Linked DNA regions of Homo sapiens: all the other regions are reported to be linked to region 1. Evidence: microRNA targets listed by miRTarBase, many of them from high-throughput screens and not tested one by one. Region 1 holds a microRNA gene; each other region holds the end of a gene's coding sequence. Distances are between the middles of the regions.
What was found. Region 1 holds the annotated microRNA hsa-miR-2682-3p (CGCCUCUUCAGCGCUGUCUUCC, at 1,307-1,328, opposite strand). A microRNA usually pairs through its seed, bases 2 to 8, with sites in the 3' UTR of a target mRNA and lowers its output. Matches are read on the target gene's strand: a 7mer-m8 pairs with bases 2 to 8, a 7mer-A1 pairs with bases 2 to 7 and ends in A, and an 8mer does both.

Region 2: miRTarBase lists C1orf210 as a target of hsa-miR-2682-3p. The part of its 3' UTR that is shown has no 7-base or 8-base seed match.
Region 3: the mRNA of FLYWCH1 is a reported target of hsa-miR-2682-3p. Seed matches in the 3' UTR shown: 7mer-A1 at 1,350-1,356 and 8mer at 1,859-1,866.

Annotation. Positions count from the first base shown.
Region 1 is chr1:98,043,965-98,048,112 of GRCh38, forward strand. MIR2682 (microRNA 2682) reads right to left here and starts at 1,387; the gene lies at 1,278-1,387. It overlaps LOC124904228, which reads right to left and starts at 1,539. Exons shown (of 1, transcript XM_047437906.1): 1 at 1-1,539. The coding sequence starts at 1,426. The coding sequence ends at 905. It overlaps MIR137HG (MIR137 host gene), which reads right to left. Exons shown (of 5, transcript NR_046105.1): 2 at 2,555-2,663; 3 at 2,044-2,432. It overlaps MIR137 (microRNA 137), which reads right to left and starts at 2,207; the gene lies at 2,106-2,207.
Region 2 is chr1:43,279,292-43,283,291 of GRCh38, forward strand. C1orf210 (chromosome 1 open reading frame 210) reads right to left here. Exons shown (of 3, transcript NM_182517.3): 2 at 3,961-4,000; 3 at 2,586-3,816. The coding sequence starts at 3,979. The coding sequence ends at 3,494. Among named protein-coding and RNA genes, the nearest start is that of C1orf210, 4.3 kb to the right of the region's middle.
Region 3 is chr16:2,948,226-2,952,225 of GRCh38, forward strand. FLYWCH1 (FLYWCH-type zinc finger 1) reads left to right here. Exons shown (of 10, transcript NM_001308068.2): 10 at 463-2,983. The coding sequence ends at 502. All of the region lies in intron 2 of FLYWCH1-AS1 (FLYWCH1 antisense RNA 1), which reads right to left. Among named protein-coding and RNA genes, the nearest start is that of FLYWCH1-AS1, 5.9 kb to the right of the region's middle.

The DNA of each region.
Region 1 (4,148 bases):
GACCACCTAGGAACTAGAGTATGTAGCTTCTACTTTTCTAATTTCCCAAGGAAACAATGCCACCAGTAGACATATTGCATTTTGTTAAATACATAACAAGCATAATATTTAAAAGCCCTAAATCACCAACTGGTAGATCCCTAGAGAAAAAAGGTAATTCATGGAATAATGAAGGAAAGAACAGGAGTTACATATTCTCTTGCTGGTGATAGAATGTCGAATGCAAAGACAGCATCTGTGTTTTCTTTCCTACTTCAACTCATTCTTAAAATGGACTCGCCCCCGGGAGCTTCTGAGAAGGGCTCCACCCGTTCCCTGCAGACGACAATGTTCTTTGAGCGCAAAAGCTGTGAGTATAGATACCCTGGGAGTAATTGTGGGATCAGACACAATGGGGTGGGATTAGGGGTAGGCAGAGGGTGTGTGTGGAGTACCCTTCACTGGGAATCCTAAATATTAGAAGAAAGGCGAAACCCTAGGTGGGGAAGCATGAGAGTGTGCCTGCTTCCTTCAAGACACCTCGGTGTCAGCCTCTCCAGGGTTCAGACTGCTCTTGTGGGCAAGAGCCCAGTGGGGCACACGCACTTCGTGCCTGAGAAAGGCCCATCCTCCAGGGGGAGAAGGTATCTGAGATGTAGCTCAGCTTAGAGCGGTCCCAGAGCGACAAGAGGGAGAGCTTCACAGGCCTCTAAGTTTATTTGATTTTTCTCCTGCAGTTTCCATTTCTCAGGAATTCAGTCTTCGTGCGTAGCCCGTGCACAACCAACGACCACCACGCAGGGAGGAAACCTGGTCTTAGTGTTTGGCCGCGCTAGTGGAATCTTCTGGGCGCCTGGTACGTTCTTGTCCCCAGCACTCTGTCCTTCCACCTTTGAAGCGCCTTGATAGGACGGTCCCAGATGCCTCACAAGAAGGAAAGGCAAGGTGCAAAGCTGGCAAAGCTGTGTGGTCCGACGCTGGCGAGAGCTGAGACCTGGAGCCCCAGCCCACGCCTTCCACTCTGGGTCATCCTTCCCAGCTTCATCTTGGGCATGCCAACTCCTGCCACGTCCGATTGTCCCCAGGAGTGCCCAGGCATGCTTGAGGGGTGTGGTGGCGGTGGCTTCCTCTTCGCTAGGAGGTGACAAATCCGTGTTGTTTTATCGTCCATTAATATTTGAAACAAACAAACAAACAAACAAACAAAAACTCTAAGTAGAAGGAGGGAGAGGCTCTCTCTTGCTCCCACGCCTTCGCAGCTGACCTGAGAGGGGGGACGTGCCTTGCGTTTGTTGGTGTTTGAGACTCGTCCTAAAGGCAGAGGCAGGGAAGACAGCGCTGAAGAGGCGTCCCAAAGAGATTGGACGTCTGAACAGTCACTGCCTGCCCCAACCTCTTTCAGGAAGGTTCCAGGTCTGTGCCACACTGCAACCAATCCGGTTCCCATCCTGTTTCTCCACCCCTTCTCGGAGAATCCGAAAAGAAAATATGCGTTCCTGAGAGACCCGCCACACTTCCGATCTGGAAGTTCCGCGGGGACCCAGCCCCCGGGCCCCCGCCCCCTCCCCATCTCGGCCGCCAAGTCTGGTTGCGGAGCAGCGCGGCCGGCCGGGGGTGGGGCTCCGGCACCGCCCCGGGCTCGGGATTCGCGAAGTCACGCGCTTCCGCAGGCTTGCGGGGGCACCTTCGCCCACGGACACGCCCTTTCTGCGGAGGCAGCCCCCAGCGACCCTCTGCCCAGCTTCGGCGCCTCACTCGCGACGCTCCCAAACTGCTCAAGGCCTTTCAGTCGTTCCCAACTTTAGAAAATCGCCCCGTCCGCGTCTCTCCCTCCAGCCGCACCCCACCGTGGAGAGGAGAGGAGCGGACTGGGAACGCCGAACCGCCCCGCAGGCTCGGGGAAACGGACCCCCTTCCGCTCCCCGCCCATCCCCTTCACCTCGCCCCCCGCCCCCTGCGCGAACCCATTTTCCAGTCCTGGTCACCAGAGGCGCAGCGCACAGCCTTTCCGGTGGAACCAGTGCGAAAACACCCGAGGAAATGAAAAGAACAAGAAAGTGCTACCTTGGCAACCACGGGCGTTTAGTGGCCAGCTGGTGGGCTGGGGAGGGCGGCCGCTGCCCCCCTGCCGCTGGTACTCTCCTCGACTACGCGTATTCTTAAGCAATAACAACGTAATCCGTATTATCCACCCAAGAATACCCGTCACCGAAGAGAGTCAGAGGACCAAGCTGCCGCTGCCGCTGCTACCGCTGCCGCTGCTACCGCTGCCGCTGCTACTGCCGCCGCCGCCGCCACCAGAACTCTTGCTGCTCGCTGAGCCCGCCCCTGCCTGGGGATGGGCTGAGCTTGACCGGGACCATAAATCCATAACTCGATTTCCCTAAAGAAGGATCCAAAGCTGTGCTCGGCTGCTTCCTGCCCAAATCCAAATGGCCGCTCTATTTCCAATTCTGAAAGACAAATCACAAAATCAAATACTTAACACAGAAGAGTGCTGTCTTTCCAGTGAGGAGGGAAGATGTGGCAAGGCTTTTTGGGCACAAGTGGGAGTGACAAGTAACCTTCAGTTTACCTGGTGCTCTCCCAGTGCTTTCCTCTGCACTTCTCTGCTTGGTACCCAGTCTGGTCTCGGCCAGTCCACTCTAGGTGGTATGATTGAGTGCCATGGCGGCCAGAGAACCCTGTAAGAGACGTGAATAGTTACCCACACAAATACAAATATATTTGCCTAGACGGCTTTGGGAAGAAGTGAGGCTTAAATAAAGATAGGTCATGCATGGGTGAAATTTTCAGTAGTGTGTTTTGGAAATGCACTTTTCTCAAGCCCAAGATCATGGAAAATAAACACTCATTCAATTTACTACTTGAAATCAAATACTTATAGATGTACAAAAATAGGCGTCTTTCCTTTGAAGGCCTTATAGCTATACAACATAATGATTTTTAAAGAAAAAAAAAAGCTTGAAGGCACACAGTAATTAAACCCATTTTCCATAGTGTCAAAACTCACTGAGTTGACAAGCTGGTAGACTTTCTATGATTTAAGCATCATTTTATATCACTACAATGTTTAATTTCATAGCACACTTTTAAAATATATACTATAAATGCATTGCTGTACAGCTGTTGTGGACACCTCTACAGAAAAACCTTTGAAGCTCTGTGTTCATAAATATTATTTTAAGAAGAAAAAGCCAATAAAAACTCATTTGCAAAGTGACTGTAATTTTGGCATTCAGAGAGAGAATCTCTGTGATTCTTTGATGATCAATATGGCTCTTACTGGAAAAGCTTTGTCTTAAGATCCTGCAGTGGATATTCTGATAATGGGGGTTTATTGTTCACTAAATAAAATGGACAAGTGCAACGTCACTACCCAAGACATGGTGTAGCTTCCTTAGAAAGTTCTCAATTTGCTTTCCCCTTTACTCTCAAATACATGAAAGTACATCCATGTAAGGGGAATGGGGGGGAATATGGAAACATGGCAATAGACATTATGATTTCCCAAATTATGTAAGTGCAAATAGCTCTTCATCAAGGAGTAATTATATAACAGAATCTCTCCCACTACCACAACTCATCTCTAACTGACCTGGTTGCAATTTAAGGTGCTTAGGTTGTGTTTGCTCTTATTTTTTTAAAAATTATAATACTTCTCCGGGCACACCAACTCATCATTTTCTTGACATGTTACTTACAGATGGAAAAATCAACATGAATTCTAGGTTTTATGAATAGATGTTTAATATATAATGTCTGAACCTAAAATAACTAGAAAGAAAACCAATATAGCCCAACTACCAGACTGTTTTACATTATTTTCAGATAACTCTTAAGTACACCACTTACAAAAGGACAGATACCAATAAAACAAATAAATAAGCACTATTTTCTGTTGTTACCTAACATAGGTATAAAGTGGAGCTTTTCTCTGGTGCTAGACAAAAAAAAAATTCAGAAAGCTGACAGGTTCTCTTCAGCTTGAACTCCTAGAAACAAAAGCCCTTAGGGAAAGTAATGCAATAGTCTATGAGCAAAGTGTACATTTGCTTCTGCACTCTTCTATTTAAATCTCAACTAATATTAAAAGGAAAACAAGAAACACACTATACAGATAGGCTTGGATTTAGTAAATGGAACGTTATAAACTCAAAAGGATGGTC
Region 2 (4,000 bases), 55 Mb from region 1:
ACGCCAAACCAGAGAGGGCCTGGCTGAATCCCAAGCTCCCAACACCCCCAGCCCTTTGCGGCTGTGGGCTCAGGTCATGCTCCCTCTTTGCACTTGGGGTCAGGCATGCAAACCACAGTGGGAAGAAATTCCTCCAAGGAATCAAGGCCTTGAAGGACAGGGTCCAAGGTTCTTGTGACTACAGGGCCCTCCTCAGCCAGGCTTGCCACCCACAGCTGGTTCTGAGGGGAAGCCCCAGCTCGGGCACCCTGTGGGGCACAGGCTCAGCAAAATCAACTGCGAGTCTGGGATCAGGCCCTTACCTTCTTCTCCTGGGTCCATCAGAGGTTCTGACTGAGGCCCCAAAGAGTACAGGAGAACAGGGACAGCCAAGCATAGAACTGCACGCAGGGCAGCTCCTCTGTGGTGGGAATTGAAGGAGCCCAGGGGCAGGGGGCAGGCTCAGCTGCCTGGGCAGCAGCTTTTCCTGGTAGGCCAGGACATGCCCCTTAGGTCAGCCTCTGGGGTCCTCCTCCAGGGTCTCAGGCTGGGGCAGCCTCTGCTCTCCCCAGGCCTGTGAGGGGCAGACCATCTCTGGACTCAGGAACCATGGCCAGGTTGGGGGTCATGTGAGCTGGGCTTCCCTCCTCTCTGCTTCCTCCAACTCCCCTGCCAGGGCTTGGTCCGCTGACAGTCTTGAGATGTGTTTCCCGCTCCGCTCCTCTCTGGCGATCTCATCCATTCCTGCTCTCAATGACCCTGGTGCCAAGTGTTCCCAAGCCCGTGTCTGCAGACTAGACTTCTCCCTGTGAACCCAGCAGCCCCGAGGCATCTCCCCTGGAAATCCTGTATCCAACATTGAATCCCCATTGCCCCAACCTGCTCTTCGTCAATGTACCCAGTAACCAAGCCAGAAGCCAGGGTGCGTTTTTCTGATACCTACCTACTCCCCATATCCAAAGTCAACAGGTCCTATCAGCTCTTCCTCCCTCTTGTCTCAAAGTCTGTTCCTATGTCACACCTTAGACAGGTCTTATTACCTTCTCTCGGTGTCTCCCCTCCAATCCATCTCTGCACAGCAGCCAGAATGACTTTTCTATCATGATTATGTCATGCCCTTGCACAAAAAAAGTCCACAGATGAGCTTCCATTGCTCTCAGGTTGAAGTGTGAGCTTGGCATCCAAGGCCCTAACAGATCCACTCTTGGGCTTCCTCACTGCCATGGGCACCCCTCAGATACGACACTCAAGTCCTCTTCAATCTCCTGCCTCTTTCCCAAGCACCTCACTACATTTGCCAATGCCTCACTTTCCTTCTGTACCAGCTCATTCCTCAAAGGCTGACACTGTACTTGGGGAACACATGGGGGTGGCTGCCTGGCTCATGAGAACTGCCCCTTGTCTGAGAATGATCTGGAACAAACAGATGGGCTCCCCAAACCATGCCCCCCACTCATAGCAGATTGTGCTTTAAGCCTATGTATACTTGACCCAAACTGGGCCAAATTGATTCTCTTTTCTGAGCACTTGAAACTTGGAACTGAGAGTTTGGAAGTCCTGGTTATAGAGAGTCCCATCAGTGCCCCTAAACGACAGGATGCTAGGGGTGAAATGCCTGACCTCTGGCTGCTGGGACCGCCTGCTTCCTGCTGTCCCTTTGATTCTATGCAACAGCCAGGACTCTCCCCCAAACTCCTTTCTATTGCTTGCAATTAAAAACAGCTTAACTCAAGTCTTTTCCATCTTAAAACTAGCTCCCTTGTGCAAGAATCTGAGGATACACAATAAGACACAATCTGGGGCCTCAGGGAGCTCCCAGTTTAGCTATGGGGGCAGGCATAGTAAGAGGCAAGTACGAACCGTCATAAAGATTAAAATAAGCCTGTAAATCCCAGCACTTTGGGAGGCAGAGGTGGGAGGATCACTAAAGTCTAGGAGTTCGAGACAAGCCTGGGTGATACAGTGAGACCCCATCTCTACAAAAAATAATTAGCCATGCGCAGTGGCACATGCATGTATTCCCAGCTACTTGGGAGGCTGAGATGGGAGGATCACTTAAGCACAGGAGATCGAGGCTAAAGTGAGCTGTGATAGCCCCACCATACTGCAGCTTGGGTGACAGAGAGAGACCCTGTGTCAAAAAAAAAAAAAAAAAAAAAAAAAAAAGATGGCCAGGTGTGGTGGCTCACACCTGTAATCCTAGCACTTTGGGAGGCTGAGGAGGGTGGATCACCTGAGGTCAGCAGTTTGAGACCAGCCTGGCCAGTATGGCAAAACCCCATCTCTACTAAAAATACAAAAATTAGCTGGGTGTGGTGGTGGTGGGTGCCTGTAATCCCAGCTGCTCAGGAGGCTGAGGTAGGAGAATTGTTTGAACCCGGGAGGCGGAGTTTGCAGTGAGCTGAGATTGCGCCATTGCACTCCAGCCTGGGCAACAAGAGCAAGACTCCGCCTGAAAACAAACAAAAAGATGAAAACAAAATGTGGGCAGGACAGTACTAGAGAAGGGCTCATGGAAGGTGTCTTGGAGGGGGGAGCATCTGAGCAGTGTCTTCTAGCTCTGAGTGATAAAGCCCAGCTCAAGAAAAATAAAAATGAGTGACAGCTTTTTATTTTTATTCAAAATGAAAATAGATTTATTAATTCCTGTGAAAAACATATTATAACCGGATTACCCACTTTATTTATAGGAAAATATTTCATTAAGAAGCTGGCCGGGCATGGTGGCTCACGCCTGTAATCCCAGCACTTTGGGAGGCCGAGGAAGGCGGACTACCTGAGGTCAAGAGTTCGAGACCATCCTGGCCAATATGGCGAAACCTCGTCTCTACTAAAAATATAAAAATTAGCTGGGCGTGGTGGCGGATGCCTGTAATCCCAGCTACTCAGGAGGCTGAAGCAGGAGAATCGCTTGAACCCAGGAGGCGGAGGTTGCAGTGAGCCAAGATGTGCCATTGCACTCCAGCCTGGGCAACAGAGTGAGACTCCGTCTCAGGAAAAAAAAAAAAAGGAAGCTTGGCACTGGTTTTCACCTGCACAAATGTTACCATCTGGGCATATTTGAAATGCTGGCAGGTAGGCAGGCCATCACAGTCATAGAGGATTTAGGAGAAGAGTAGCGTAGGCAGGGGGACCAATGTGAGCAAAGGTGCCTGGGGAAACTGCATGGGAAGTGGTGGGAGGGAGAATAACATTGATTTCGACAGTAAAGTAGGGGAAGGCAAGAAAAGAAACCAAGAGGCCGAGAGGCATGATCACAGAGGGCCTTATGTCCACACTCAAGCCTTTGTTTGGCTTTATCCTGAGAACAGCAGGGAACAGTTGAGAGTTATTGAGCAAGAGAGGGTCATTGTCACTTTGCTGGCTAGTGTCAGGGAAGTGGGGTTTACTCCATCCCTGGCCAACCTTTAAGCCCCAGCCACCTCTGTCCCTGAGGTTCAAGGCCCCCATGTCATAACCACTGTCCTTAAGCTGTCAGGCATGGAGGGAGTGGGGAGGGTCTAAAGATGGGAGCTCAGAGGGAGAAGTGGTCCCTGCTACCCTCTGTCCCCAGCTCGCCAGTCCCAGGCTGAATGTAATTGTCCTCGATGAAGCCATCATCATCCTCATCTTCAGCCACCTGTGGGCGGCCTCCCCTTCCTGTCTCAGGCAGTGGGCGGTGCCGGTAGCTGGCATGGTATCGGCGGCAGAGGTGGCATTTGGCAGCAAGTGCAATGAGGAGCGAGAGGACCACAGCCCCCAGCACAAATCCTACCAGCACAGGCCATGCCCGAGCCCCAGTGCCTGGGCCAGGGGCCACAGCAGACGCTGTGGGGAGCTCCGAAGGCCCAACAAGTGCTGCAGAGAAAGGGACAGCATTATAGGTGGGCCCCAGAGGGGGCTCCCTGGAGAAACCAAGAGCAGTGCAGGTAGGGTCCTTCCCCCAACCCCAGCATCTAAGGGGAAGCCCCCCACCCCCATCATCCTCCCACTGTCACTCACTTTTGTTTGTCTCATTCATGGAGGGGCCTGATGACACCAG
Region 3 (4,000 bases), not on the chromosome of region 1:
ATGTTGTAAAGGAATTGATACGGATGGATGGATGTGTGTGTAAAAATGATCAGCCAGGTGAGGTGGCTCATGCCTGTAATCCCAGCACTTTGGTAGGCGGAGGTGGGTGGATCACCTGAGGTCAGGAGATCGAGACCATCCTGGCCAACATGGTGAAACCCCGTCTCTAATAAAATACAAAAAAAAAATTAGCTGAGCATGATGGCATGCACCTGTAGTCCCAGCTACTCAGGAGGCTGAGGTGGGAGAATCACTTGAACCCAGGAGGCGGGGGGTGCAGTGAGCCGAGATCGCACCACTGCACTCCAGCCTGGGTGACAGAGCAAGATTCCGTCTCAAAAATAAATGTTCTAGACTGTGGCATCCCCAGGAAAAAGGATTCCAGGAATCCTGAACTTTCTGTGTTATCTATTTCCACCATGTTTTGATGTGTGCAATGAACATGTGTCTCTTTGTAATTAGGGACATCAAAGACGTCAGACTGGATGGCGAGTCCCAGTGAGGCGATGTGGGCAGAGGAGCTCCGAGCCGCCCACCCAAGGTGGCTTCACATCCACACAGGCACTTCCCATCCACCTAGGTTTGGCTTAGCAGAAACTTCTTTTCATTCTTCCAAAGCATCGATGGTCTTCGCGTCTCCTCAGGAGGTCTCCCAGGAGGAATTCTTGGATGGTGTCCTCATGTCGGCGGAGAACAGTGCTCAGAGCTGGCGCTTGCAGACGCAGCTGTCGTGGGGCAGGGCGGTGGCGCCTTCCTGACCTTTGGAAGACATGACAAAGCTGCCTGGACACGGACGCCCCTGCTGTACGGCCACAGCACCCCTGGGTTTGCAGAGCACGCAGCCTTCCTAGGGCTTTCCACCTGGCGAGGCCCCGCTCTGCTCAGCACGGTGCAAAGTGAATGCTGCTGTCTTGGAGCCTGGGCACGTTTGGGGAAGTTCCTGCTTCAAACTGAGCTGCCCCGCATAGGCCAGGTCAACCCACACCAATCTCTTCTGGACAGGTGCTGGGTAGGCCTTCCTGGTCTCTGGCCGCCTGCTGCCAGGGTGTGGCCATCCCCAGCAACCGGAGCTGGCCAAACCAGAGGCCTCGCTCCGCACTCCACACTTTCCTTTCTGTGCTCCTTCCAAGTTAAATTAAACCCCCTCTCCACGATTCCCACGGCAGGCGTCATTCCCGAGATGGGAGCCAGTCCAGGGGTCAGCAGGAGCCAGCGCTGGGCACACGTGCCCTGGCTGAGGCCAGCGGCATCCTGGGTGGCCCAGGTCCATCCTGGGCAGCAAAGGCGTGTCCCCTTCTGTCAGACAGCTTCACAGAGTGTGGCTTCACCAGTCAGAGGGAGCAGTCCGGAGAGGCAAGATGACCCCACCGGGACTGCAGAGCCTCCTCCTTACTAACAAGGACCTGTCCGCAGCCGCGAGGTCCTTCACTCCCACCCTGTAATTGTGGGGGGAGTGCCAGCAACAGGCCTGTCCCCTGGCAAGTTGGCCACGGAACCCACCATGCACTGCAAGGCTGTGACAGCCTGGGCACCCCTGCTTCTCCTCTGCTTGTACGGTTCCCCCAATAAATCCTATTTTCCATCTCACCGTGTGGAGCTGGTACTTGTTCACATCCCTCTTGCAGCAACAGTTGGCCGCCGTGAAACCACACTCCGTCACATCTCCATGCCAGTGCCCAGGGGGAGACCCCTCCCCATGCCTGGGCTGTTACAGTCACCTGGCCCAGACGTAACCTGGACCAAGAGTGGACGGAGACACCTGGGGTTGGGGCCTCTGGAAGGGCTGCTGGGGGGCCAGCTGCAGCCTGTGGCCTCTCCCAGGCCCGGATATGGCAGGACATTTGCGTCGTGTTGCTGGAAGAGGCAGGATGCTCTGTTCTCGCCATTAGCCTGCGTTACGCCTAGACTCATCTGCATAAGCCTGGGCAAGTGGCACCCCTGGGCCAAGGGCAGACTTGCCCACCCGTCCATCCTTTGCCTATGGCAGAGGACACACAACACAGTGGCTGCGCTTTGGGCACTGTTCTCGGCCCTGAAGCATCCTGCCCCGAGGCTGACCTAACTGCCCCCAGCTGGACTCATGGCCAAGGCTACAGACCCAGTACTCCAATCCCGACTCCCACTGTGTGGTCCAAATGTGTACGCCCACAGGAGGCAGCCATGCCCGAGGAAGGTACTTGCTGAAAGATGGTCCAGTTCATGCCGCCACCAGCTGGACCTCTGATCAGGCCCCCTGCAGAAGGGGAAGCTCTCCACATGCCCAAGATACGAGAGAAACGCCCGGGTCACAGCAGCCTGAGTCACTGCAGCCTCTGCTACCTGCCAAGCCTGCGCCCTCCACCTGTGGGCTCCTTGCCTCTGTGATGGGGCCTCCACGGCCAGCATCTTCCCGCCATGGTCACATGATGCCATGCCCTGCTCTGGGCACCCCTAAGCGGGTATGAGGCGAATCAGAGGAAGAATATCGGCTTCTCTTCCCTTTTGGATATTTGCGTCATTGACCGGGACTGGCCCACTCTTCCTCTGCCTCACGCCTGCTTTGACCTTAGAAGACAGACGGCAGCTCGCGTTGCTGGGCTGAGATTCTCCAATGGACGTGAATTTAGATGATGCTGTTGCCTTGGGTGGCTTCATGGCCACCAACCCGCACCCTGGTGGCCACTCAGCCATGACAAGGGCCTGACAGCCACTAAGTGAGCTTCAGAGCCTTCCCCTTGCAAAGTTCCAGGGCCACCAGATGTCGCCTGCCCAGTCACTGTCACAGAGTTAAAGCGTGCGGGTGAACGCTGGCCGCGGAGCGTGCAGCCCGGCAGCAGCTCAGCGGGGCAGCTCCTGCTTCCAGCCCTGCCTCTGCTGGTGCTTCGCCCACAAACCCTGCTGTATGACATTTGCACCACATGGTGTGTGTCCGTGCCCTTTGACATGACAGTGCCAACAACATCTCATGAAATTTAAAATAAATCCCCAAGGCATCAGAAACGTATCAACTAAGAACTCTAAGTTTGAAAATGGGGGTGGGGCAGTGGCCAGTTCCGGGAGCCCCTGGCCCCCCGGGACCTGACCCACAGTCATAAGGTGGGCCCCATTCCCCAGTGGTCCCAGCCTAGCCTCCTGTCCCACCTCCTCTGCCAAGACAGAGTGGCACAGGACCCCTGTCGCTCAGGCCAGCAGGTGTGTCTCTGAGCTGGCCGTGGGCACTGACCGCCCTCCCAGGTCCCCTCCAGTGCCAGCTCTTCTGGCTTCCCCTCCCAGCCCCCTTCGTGAGCGCCTTGATCCAGCCCAACCTTGGAGTGGGGGTTGGTGATTTGGGGGCTGGACCTCAGCCCTCTTCTGCTCTGCCACTTTTGGGGTTCACGGTTTGTCAGCCCTCCCTTCTGCAAATGAGACCTGGACGTCATGTCCAGCTGCCTCCTGGGCCCTGCCCGGCATCTCCCATAAGCACCATGCAGCACAGGTGGCAGAGGGGATTGTCCTCCATCCTCTTGTCTGAGGGAGGAGACCACAAATGAGTGAGACAGTCATCCTCGCTGCCCTGCCTGTCCTGTGTCCCATCAGTCATCAGGGCCTGCCACCTGCCTTTGTCTTTTATTTATTTATTTATTTTTTAAGATGGAGTCTCGCTGTGTCGCCCAGGCTGGAACGCGATGGCGTGATCTCAGCTCACTGCAACCTCCACCTCCCTGGTTCAAGCGATTCACCTGCCTCAGCCTCCCGAGTAGCTGGGACTACAGGCGCACGCCACCATGTCCAGCTAATTTTTGTATTCTTAGTAGAGACCGGGTTTCACTGTGTCGGCCAGGATGGTCTTGATCTATTGACCTCGTAATCCACCCGCCTTGGCCTCCCAAAGTGCTGGGATAACAGGTGTGAGCCATAGAGCCCGGACCATCAATGGCTTTTAGTAAGTTCCTAGGGTTGTGCATCCATCACAACTATCTCATTCCAGAACATTATCATCACCCTGAAAGGCAGCCGCTTCCCCATTAGCATTTCCTCTCCT